Regions from separate parts of the Homo sapiens genome. Here region 2 is linked to region 1. The links come from fine-mapping of genetic effects on gene expression. A gene starts in region 1. The other region holds a variant in brackets. All regions are shown on one strand. Distances are from middle to middle.

What was found. PIP is the estimated chance that this variant, and not a neighbour inherited with it, causes the effect.
Region 2: its variant is the best candidate, but not a certain one, in a credible set for the expression of HSD17B3 in whole blood (TOPMed, PIP 0.72).

Annotation. Positions count from the first base shown.
Region 1 is chr9:96,298,991-96,304,225 of GRCh38, reverse strand. It overlaps HSD17B3 (hydroxysteroid 17-beta dehydrogenase 3), which reads left to right and starts at 2,050. Exons shown (of 11, transcript NM_000197.2): 1 at 2,050-2,275. The coding sequence starts at 2,122. It overlaps SLC35D2-HSD17B3 (SLC35D2-HSD17B3 readthrough), which reads left to right. Exons shown (of 26, transcript NR_182427.1): 16 at 1,915-2,275.
Region 2 is chr9:96,276,506-96,281,740 of GRCh38, reverse strand. All of the region lies in intron 2 of HSD17B3 (hydroxysteroid 17-beta dehydrogenase 3), which reads left to right. The region is part of intron 17 of SLC35D2-HSD17B3 (SLC35D2-HSD17B3 readthrough); the gene reads left to right. Among named protein-coding and RNA genes, the nearest start is that of HSD17B3, 23 kb to the left of the region's middle. The variant G/A (reference allele first, on the strand shown) is at 2,880.

The DNA of each region.
Region 1 (5,235 bases):
GTTAAGGTCATTAAAATAAAAACCACAATGGGCTGACTTAACAATGATCAGACACACCTGAAGAGATAATCAATGACCATGAAGGACAGAGTGAGCAGGTCGAATTTCTGACTAATCAGAGTCCTGAAACCATCTCTAAATACAGAGAAGGGAAAGACCAAAAACCACATAGAAAAACGGGCAGGAGAGAGAAAATTCACAAAGAAAACAGTGAAAATAGCTCTTAGGCTTAAGAAAATCTCTCCAACCTGGCTGATAAGATAATTTAAACTTAAAACAACATTGGATGCTACTTCTTACCTACTGGGTGGCAAAAGTCCCAAAGCTTGACAACATGCTTTACTGCTAAGGCAGTGGGAAAACGAACATGCTCACGTGTTGTTGGCGTGAATGCAAAATGAAGGCAAATCTGACAATATCTAGCATAAAGACGTATGAATCTATGTTCTGGCCAGCAATTCTGCTTCTAGGGTGAGCGCAAGGCTGTTGATTGCAGCACAGAGTGAGCTGAGAGTGAGCACAGGCAGAAATGAGAGAAGGCCAAGGACTGATCCTGTGGCCTCTGCAGGGATGACTTCAGTATCCTGGCTGCCCTTGCTTCAGTTGTCACACCCACCCTCCATCCCACCCCCAGAAGGACATCTTCCCTCAGCATCCAGTGGCCTTTTAAAAGCATAATTCAGAGTATAGAACTCTGTTTCCTAAATCTGTGCAATGGCTTCTGGTTGCTCTGAAAGTCCACACTCACCCGTAGGGCATGGCTCCTCCCTCCTGCTCTGGCCTTTTCCTCCCTTACTCTCTGTGGCCAGTCCCTCTGCTGTGTTGTCCTAGTGTTTTTTTTTTTTTTGAGATGGAGTCTTGCTCTGTCGCCCAGACTGGAGTGCAGTGGCACAATCTCAGCTCACTGCAACTTCCACCTCCCAGGTTCAAGCGATTCTCCTGCCTCAGCCTCCGAAGTAGTTAAGATTACAGGCATGCTCCACCACACCCAGCTAATTATTGTATTTTTAGTAGGTCTCAATCTCCTGACCTTGTGATCCGCCTGCCTCGGCCTCCCAAAGTGCTGGGATTACAGGCGTGAGCCACCATGCCTGTCCTGTCCTAGTTCTTATTCCTCAAATACGTGGATTTTTCTCACTTCAGGCATTGTACTAGCCGTTCCATTAGCCTGGAGGGGGAAACTCATCTTTGCGGAGCTGGCTCCTTTTCATTCAAATTTCAACTAAAAATGCCACCTCTTCATGGAATTCCTTCCTGAACACCCTCTCTGAAGCATTCCCTGAGTAGCTACTCAAACACATCATTCAATAGTGCTTTTTCATAGCACTGATGTTATCTTTTTTTTTTTTTTGAGACAGAATCTCACTCTGTCACCCAGGCTGGAGTGCAATGGCGTGATCTTGGCTCACTGCAACCTCCGCCTCCCAAGTTCAAGTGATTCTCCTGCCTCAGCCTCCCAAGTAGCTGGGATTACAGGTGCCCACCACCAGGCCTGGCTAATTTTTGTATTTTAAGTAGAGATGAGGTTTCACCATGTTGGCCAGGCTGGTCTTGAACTCTTGACTTCATGTGACCCGCCTGCCTTGGCTTCCCAAAATGTTGGGATTATGGGCGTGAGCCACTGCCCCATCTGATGTTATCTTATTTATCTGCTCATCATCTGTCCCTGCTACCAGAATCTAAGCTCCAAACCAGAGAGACCCTCTGTGGTCACTATTAACTTCCTAATGCCTTCAAGAGGGGACTCCACCTGGTAGGCAGTCAATACATAGTGCTAAATGTATGAATAATTGCCTTGGATTCTGCATCCTTTTTAACTTTCCCAAATTCAGGGAGAGAACTGTGGGCTGCCATTTTATATTTGTCCAGGCTTTGTTTTTTTCCCTTCATGTCCACCTTTTACTTTTTCACCAGCTCCTCCACAGTAACAAAAGCCTTATTCAAAGGCCTGTGAGTCAGAGGATTATGTAAAGAAGTTACTTTAATCTAGATGCCCCTGACTTGATGGAACACGTCCAGTGACTCCTGGAAGAAGATCTGGAGGTCTCCAGAGCAGCGTGGTCCCAGGAGGCATACACAGAGAGCCACGGCCAGGGCTGAAACAGTCTGTTGAGTGCAGCCATGGGGGACGTCCTGGAACAGTTCTTCATCCTCACAGGGCTGCTGGTGTGCCTGGCCTGCCTGGCGAAGTGCGTGAGATTCTCCAGATGTGTTTTACTGAACTACTGGAAAGTTTTGCCAAAGTCTTTCTTGCGGTCAATGGGACAGTGGGCAGGTAAGGGAGTGTTCCATCTCATGTTTTTTTGCTGCTGTTGTTCCTGCTTGTTACTATTATTATTATTTTTGAGACAGACACTTGCTCTGTCACCCAGGCTGGAGTGCAATGGCGCGATCTTGGCTCACTGCAACCTCCGCTTCCCGGGTTTAAGCAATTCTCCTGCCTCAGCCTCCCAAGTAGCTGGGATTATAGGCGCCTGTCACCACACCTGGCTAATGGTGTTTTTTTTTTTTTTTTGAGACAGAGTCTCACTCTGTTGCCCGGGCTGGAGTGCAGTAGTGCGATCTCTGCTCACTGCAACCTCTGCCTCCTGGGTTCAAGCAATTCTCCTGCCTCGGCCTCCCAAGTAGCTGGGATTACAGGCACACACTACTACGGCTGGCTAATTTTTTGTATTTTAGTAGAGACAGGGTTCCCCCATGTTGGCCAGGCTGGTCTCGAACTCCTGACCTCATGATTTGCCCACTTTAGCCTCTCAAAGTGCTGAGATTACAGGCGTGAGCCACCGCACCCAGCCAACGTTTTGTATTTTTAGTAGAGACAGGGTTTCACCCTGTTGGCTAGGCTGGTCTCAAACTCTTGACCTTGTGATTCACCCGACTCGGCCTCCCCAACGGCTGGGATGACAGGCGTGAGCCACCGCACCCAGCCCCTGCTTATTATTATTTATGTCTCAAAAGGGATATTGCATTTTTTTCTCTTTGAGAGCAAAGAAGTAATTCCTTTGGGTAATTTTAATTGGGGGGATTAGAAAAGTGTGAGTGAAATTAGAATGGTCTGCAACACAAGCTGTAGGGCATTAGGGGAACACTAGGGCAGAAGGCTACCCAGCCCTTGCTAAGCACTTATCCTCTCAACCCCATTAGATGAGTTTTCTTCTTTTGGGAGTTTCCTGCTAATACAAATAATAAATAATGCAGAAATTTCTGCATCCTCATCTCTAAATTTACAAAAAGCCCAGGGTGCTTTCACTTTACTAAAAGGTGTTTCCAAATTTTGAAATCTAAATAATTTTAACTCATTGTATTAAAAAAAGGATCCAAGTGTTTTTAAGAAATGAAGGTGTTACAAAATCAAGGCAACGCATAACTCTATGGAGCCATGTTTTCAGGATGGTATGGAATGGAATCTGGGTCTGGCTGGTGTCAATTAATGCTGCCTCCCCATGGGATTTATCTACTGGAACGCCCATGCAGAACTTCAGCCCTATGACTGAAGTTAAGGTGAAGAGCATGAGGCCATGGTTTCAGCATCTCCTTGAATATCTGAAATGCTAAAGTCTTTGCAGGGCCTTATATTTCAAATTTGGACACACACACACACACACACACACACACACAAAGAATCCAATGACAAAAATGATTAAGTGACTTTAGAGATATTATCTAGGCAAAATAGGAAAGATTCTAATATGCTTATAGGGCTGCCAGATAAAATACAGGATACCCAGTTAAATTTAAATTTCAGAAAAAAAGGAATACTTTTTTAGTATAACTCACATATGGCATGAGACATGCATTAAACAATTCATAATTTACCTTAATTTCAAATTTAAGTGGGCATTCTGTATCCTTATTTGCTAAACCTGGCAACCTTAAAAACTTAGCAATGGAAATTAAAAAAATTACCGTGTGAGAAATTGTTTGGGATGACAAATGGATTTTTGACTTCTGCGTCTTATATTTGCTGTGTGCGTGTGTGTGTGTGTGTGTGTGTGTGTGTGTGTGTGTGTGTGTGTCCTCTTGGGGTATTATGCTGTCAGGAGTGAACTTGCTTGAACTTGCTCAGCAGCTTGACCTGAGTGTTCTGGATTTAAATACCCCACTCCACACAGATTCAGATGCCCACGTGTGGGTGGACGTAGCACTCTGCACAGCTGCTGTCGTTTGTGTAGGGAAAGCCCTTCTAAAAACCTACATTCTAAAAGAAGTTCAAATGGGGACAGAGACTAAGAGCATTTGGTGACTCAAAGGAAAAACATGATCTTAACCTGTTTTTATGAGTCAAGATGGATAGAGTTACCTCTAGCAGGAGTAAAATATGTTTGGGCAGAGGCAGATATCAGGGAGATAATATATTTCAAGTAGGGGACAAAAAAGAAACGCAAGAACTAGAGGCTAAATTTTTAATTCCTCAGATAGAGTACCCTGAGCTCTGTGCTGGATTTCCTAATTCTTTTCTTAGTGTATATTCATAGACTCAGGGCCCCAAAGTCAGACAGCCTGGGTTCAAATCCTTGTGTCATCATTTTTAGCAGTGTGACCTTAATCAAGTTACGAACTTTTTCCCCTTGGCTTCCTCATTTATAAACTAAGGATAATGATGGTCCCTGCATTTTAGGTTTGTTTTGAACATTAAATGAGATGATGCATCTAAAACACTAGAAGCAGTACATGGCAAGAAGTGAGTGTGTGACCGTTATCCGTCGTTATTATTGATGGTATCATCTTGCCTGTAGTGTAGGCCCTGTATTGGGTGAATTGAAGATTCCCCACAGGGAGGGGAAGGTAAGGCCCAAGATGCCCTGAGCATAGTTCCTCCACCCAGAGCTGCAGACGGTGTGCATGGAGCCTCTTAGAAGTTCCTAAACGAACAGACACATCATTAGTAATTATTAAAGCCAGTGTGGTCCGTGAGGCTTGTACAGCTTGGCCTGCACTCACTCTCAGGTGAGCTAAATGTACCTTTTGTTCACACTTTTTGAAAGCATGCCCTTTAATTGTTGTTGCAAGGGTAAATTGTAAGTTTTACGATATACCGAATTGTAGTGAATTTTGAAATTGTGACGTTCTCACGAATGAAGCGTATACTAGAGCTCAATCATTAAATATGTCTGTAATGTTGATATGAAAGGACTAGCAGACCTATTTGACTGTTGTATATTAACAGATAGTTCTATTGAGTACAAATTCTTCAGGTTTCTTCATTTCACTGCATTTTCTTTTTGCATTTTGGTA
Region 2 (5,235 bases), 22 kb after region 1:
CAGCTCTTAAGTTCCCCCTTTTAGGGAGGAAAAAGTTCCCCGTGTACCACAATGCTGTACATGCCTAATCCTGTCACCCACAGCCATTAGCAAAGAGCGAAAGGCAGATTATTCCAAAGAGAAAAGCAGTTAACATCCCGTAGGGCCAAACCCATTCTTAGCCAAGAGGGACTTTACGAGAGGGACTTTTCTGAGAGGGGACTTTAACCCCCTAAATATTAGAAGGGACTCTAACCCTCCTAAGTTAGGACTCTAACCCAAGGCTAGTCAAGTGCCCTTGCCTTTTATTAAGAAGGGCCTCTAACCTGCTCTGTCTTAGGAGAGGCTCTAACTCCCCTAAGTTGGGCCTCTAACCCAGCCCCATCCTTTACCCGGGTAAATGCGCCCCACTTACCCAAAGCCATCCAATCAGTGCTGTAGTCTATTTTTTTTGGGTCGGGGGCTTCTTTAGTATTGGGGCTTCTTTAGTATTGTGCCTTCAGGGTTAGTGAGAAAGATGTTACCAGACCCCACCACTTACCCAAAGTTAGGCTTTGGGAAGGGGGTTTTCACACTATAATCCCTTTGTGGTCACCAGAAAGATGTTACAGGAAAGGGGTCCTGATCCAGACCCCAAGAGAAGGTTCTTGGGTCTTGAGCAGGAAAGAATTCAGGGTGAGTCCATAAAGTGAAAGCAAGATTATTAGGAAAGTAAAGGAATAAAAAATGGCTACTCCATGGACAGAGCAGCCCTCGGGTTGCCCATTTTTATGGTTATTTCTTGATGATATGCTAAACAAGGGGCGGATTATTCATGCCTCCCCTTTTAGACCATATAGGATAACTTCCTGACATTGCCCTGGCATTTGTAAACTGTCACGGCGCTGGTGGGAGTGTAGCAATGAGGATGACCAGAGGTCACTCTCCTCGCCATATTGGTTTTGGTGGGTTTTAGCTGGCTTTTTTACTGCAAGCTGTTTTATCAGCAAGGTCTTTATGACCTGTATTTTGTGTTGACCTCTTACCTCACCCTGTGACATAGAATGCCTCAACTATCTGGGAATGCAGCCCAGTAGGTCTCAGCCTCATTTCACCCAGCTCCTATTTAAGATGGAGTTGCTGTGGCTCAAATACCTCTGACATGGTAACAGCAGCTCAGTGTTGCCAGCCCCACCCTATTGCACTGTCCCTTGTGGTTTCTTCATATTAAACTCTCTCCAAATTACTCAGTTTGAGTGTGCTATTTCTGCCAGAACCCTGGATAAATTGAGTTTTTAGTTATTTTTAAAAATGACAAATCAGAGTTCATCAACATCTATGCCTCAGCTAACTTGACCTTCATTAGAAGGCTTGCTAGCCTAACAGATGTTATAAGTAATTTTCCTGAGGAAATTATTTATACTGTGGAATAGTCGTTCAAAATAAGTGGATTGGTGAAAAAATGTTGTACAGGCACTTCTACCCTTGAATGAACAAAAGTATGTGAACCAAAAATACAATTCTAAGTCTCCCAACCAATCGAATGGACCCCTTCTCTTGGCCAAGGGCATTCCTAAGTTAACCTGAAAAACCAGTTCAGGCCATGATGGAGATGGGTGGTTGAACATGCCTCATTACGGCCTCCTCCCTTTGGAATTCAGGCACAGCTGAGCACCGCTGATATCAACACAGAGACCTTAAGAGTGACAAAGCAGGCCGGGCACAGTGGCTCACGCCTGTAGTCCCAGCACTTTGGGAGGCCCAGGCGGGCAGATCACCAGGTTAGGAGATCGAGACCATCCTGGCTAACACAGTGAAACCCCGCCTCTACTGAAAATGCAAAAAATTAGCCAGGGGTGGTGGCGGGCGCTTATAGTCCCAGCTACTTGGGAGGCTGAGGCAGGAGAATGGCGTGAACCTGGGAGGCGGAGCTTGCCGTGAGCCGAGATCGCGCCACTGCACTCCAGCCTGGGTGACAGAGCGAGACTCCATCTAAAAAAAAAAAAGAGTGACAAAGCAGACTCTTTGTAGCAATAAGATACCAACATCACAGACAGCAGGCCCTAAAAGAAATCAAAGTATTTTACCCCCAAATGTATTTCTTTGACACATTTTGAAATGGCCCTGCAAAGCTCTCTGTTGTGGGGAAAATCTATGGTCTGTAGAGAATCCCCTTCCCTTTCCAGGTCATTTTCCTGATTCAGGAGAGAATTAACTGGGAGTCTGATAAGAAACATTTACAATCTATTCTCTCTAAAGCCTGCTACCTGGAGGCTTCATCTGCATAATAAACACCTTGGTCTCCACAATCTCTTATCTTACCCAGACACTCCCTTCTCTTGATTCCAGGTGTTTAGATAAACTTTTTCAACCAATTACCAATCAGGAAATCTTTGAATCCACCTATGACCTGTAAGTCCCCCCACACCCACCCCTTTGAGTTGTTTTGCCTTTCTGGACAGAAGCAACGTACATCTTACATGTATTGATGGATATCTTATGTCTCTCTAAAACATGTAAGACCAAGTTGTAGCCCAACCACCTTGGGTATATGTTCGCAGGACCTCCTGAGGCTGTGCCACTGGAATGTCCTTAACCTTGGAAAAATAAACTTCAGCATGGATTGAGACCTGTCTCAGACACTTTTTGATTTACAGGTGTAATATCTGTGGGTATAGCAGAGTAGCATTCATGGCCTTGAACTGTGATTTGGTCCCACATCCTGCCACGTAGTGGAGGATTCTGCCATGTGATTTAGCTAGAAGGTTGACTGTATCCACCCCTTAGAATATTTTATCTACCGGGGATGAGCCCTCATGCAAGACATTTAGTAGACTGCCTAAGGGTCAGAGAGCTGGGGCTCCACTGAGCTTTCAAGAACAGGTTCCTGACTCTTTGATCCAGCTTGATGTTTTAGGTGT[G/A]GTAGAGTTCAGTCTGAAGCTTGCTTGCCTTGTAAGGCACCATCTGCTGGCTGGGTTTTGTGGGAGGGTACCTACAGTCCTCATTTATTTCTAATTACTGGAGGTTATAAGAAAAACCCAATACTTAACAGCAGCCAAATAGGCTTACATCAAATAAAGACATCAAATTCATGGCCTACCATCAAATTCATGGTTCCCATCATTTCTGCCTAGTTGTAGACAGAGTTCCCTTAGGGAGTGTGTGTAATTGCTGTGGCCTTAGACAATCACTCAGCCCAGCTGGACACAAGCAGGGTGGCCCCACTCAAGCCCCACGCAGCACCCACCCTCTCCACACACATCCCCACACCCATTTCAAGAGCACTGCCATCTAATTTTTGTGTATTTATTTTGTTCTCCTTTAACTTAAAAAATATTGAATATTTCCTTGCACCTTTACTGATGAATAATTGACAAATAAAAATTGTATATATTTAAGTGTATGACTTCTTAATATATTGAAATATGTATACATTGTGAAATAATCACCATAATCAAGTTAACGAACGTATCTATTATTTCATATCATTACCATGATCTTTTCTTGTTCTTTTTTGGGAGGGGTGAGAAAACGAGATTTACAGTTCTTAGCAAATTTCAAGCATATAATACAGCCTTGTTAATTATGTTCTATGTTAACTATGTCCTTGTTAACTATGTCTATTAGTTCTCTAGATCTCATTCATCCTGCATAACTGAAACTTTGTGTCCCTTGACCAACATCTCACCATTTACCCCTCCCCCAGCCTCTAGCAGCAACATTCTACTCTGTAGTTCCATGAGCTTGACTGTTTTAGATTCCACATATAAGTGAGATCATGCAGTATTTGTCTTTGTGTCTGACTTATTTCACTTAGCATAATCTCCTCATTTATCCATGTCCAACATTTATCCATGTTGTCATAAATGTCAGGATTTCCTTCTCTTTTTAAAGGCTAAATGATATTCCATTGTGTGTGTGTGTGTGTGTGTGTGTGTGTGTGTGTGCCACATTTTCCTTATTCATCTGTTAATGGATATTGGGGTTACTTCCATATCTTGGCTATTGTGAATAGTACTGTAATGAACAAGGGAGTGCAAATACCTTGAAGACATACTGATTTCATTTCCTTTGGATATATAGCCAGAAGCTGGATCATAAAGTAGTTATTATTTGAAGGAACTTCCATACAGTTTTCCCTAATGGCTGTACCAATTTACATTCCCACCAACAGTATACAAGAGTTCCCTTTTCTCTGCATCCTCGCCAATACTTATCTTTTGTCTTTTTTATAGTAGCTATTCTAACAGGTGTGAAGTGATAGCTCATTGTGGTTTTCATCTGCATTTCCTTGATAATTAGCGATATTGAACATCTTTTCATATGCCTATTGACCATTTGTATGTTTTCTTTTGAAAAATGTCTATTTACATCCTTCTTCCTTTTTTAAAATCACGTTATTTGTTTTGTTTTGCTATTAAGTTTTATTAGCTCTTTATATAGTTTGAATATCAATCCTTTATCAGACATGTAGTTGGCAAATACTTTATTCCATTTTGTAGGTTACCTTTTCACTCTGTTGATTGTTTCCTTTGCTGCACAGATGCTTTTTAGTTTGATGCATTTTCTTTCTTTTTTTTTTGAGCTGGAGTCTTGCTCTGTCGCCCAGGCTGGAGTGCAGTGGTGTGATCTCGGCTCACTGCAAGCTCTGCCTCCCAGGTTCACACCATTCTTCTGCCTCAGCCTCCTGCGTAGCTGGGACTACAGGCGCCTGCCACCACGCCCAGCTAATTTTTTGTCTTTTTAGTAGAGACAGGGTTTCACTGTGTTAGCCAGGATGGTCTCGATCTCCTGACCTTGTGACTCACCCACCTCAGCCTCCCAAAGTGTTGGGATTACAGGTGTGAGCCACCGCACCTGGCCAGTTTGATGCAATTTCAATTGTCTATTTTTATTTTGTTGCTTGTGCTTTCAGTGTCATATCTAAAAAATAATTGCCCTGACCAACATCAGGAAGATTCTCCCCTATGTCTTCCTCTAATAATCTTATGGCTTTAGAGGTTGCATTTAAGTCTTTAATCCCTTTGGGGTGGATTTGTGTATACGGTGTGAGATAAGTTCCACTTTCATTTTTCTGCATGCGGATATCTAGTTTTCCCAACACCATTTGTTGAAGAGACTATCTTTTCCTAATTGTGTGCTCTTGCCACCTTTGTTAAAAATCAGTTGACTGTAGATGTGTGAATTTATATCCAGGCTCTCTATTCTGTTCCATTGGTTTATATGTCTTTTTTAATGTTAGTAAAGCATTCTATTTTGATTACTGTAGCTTTATAA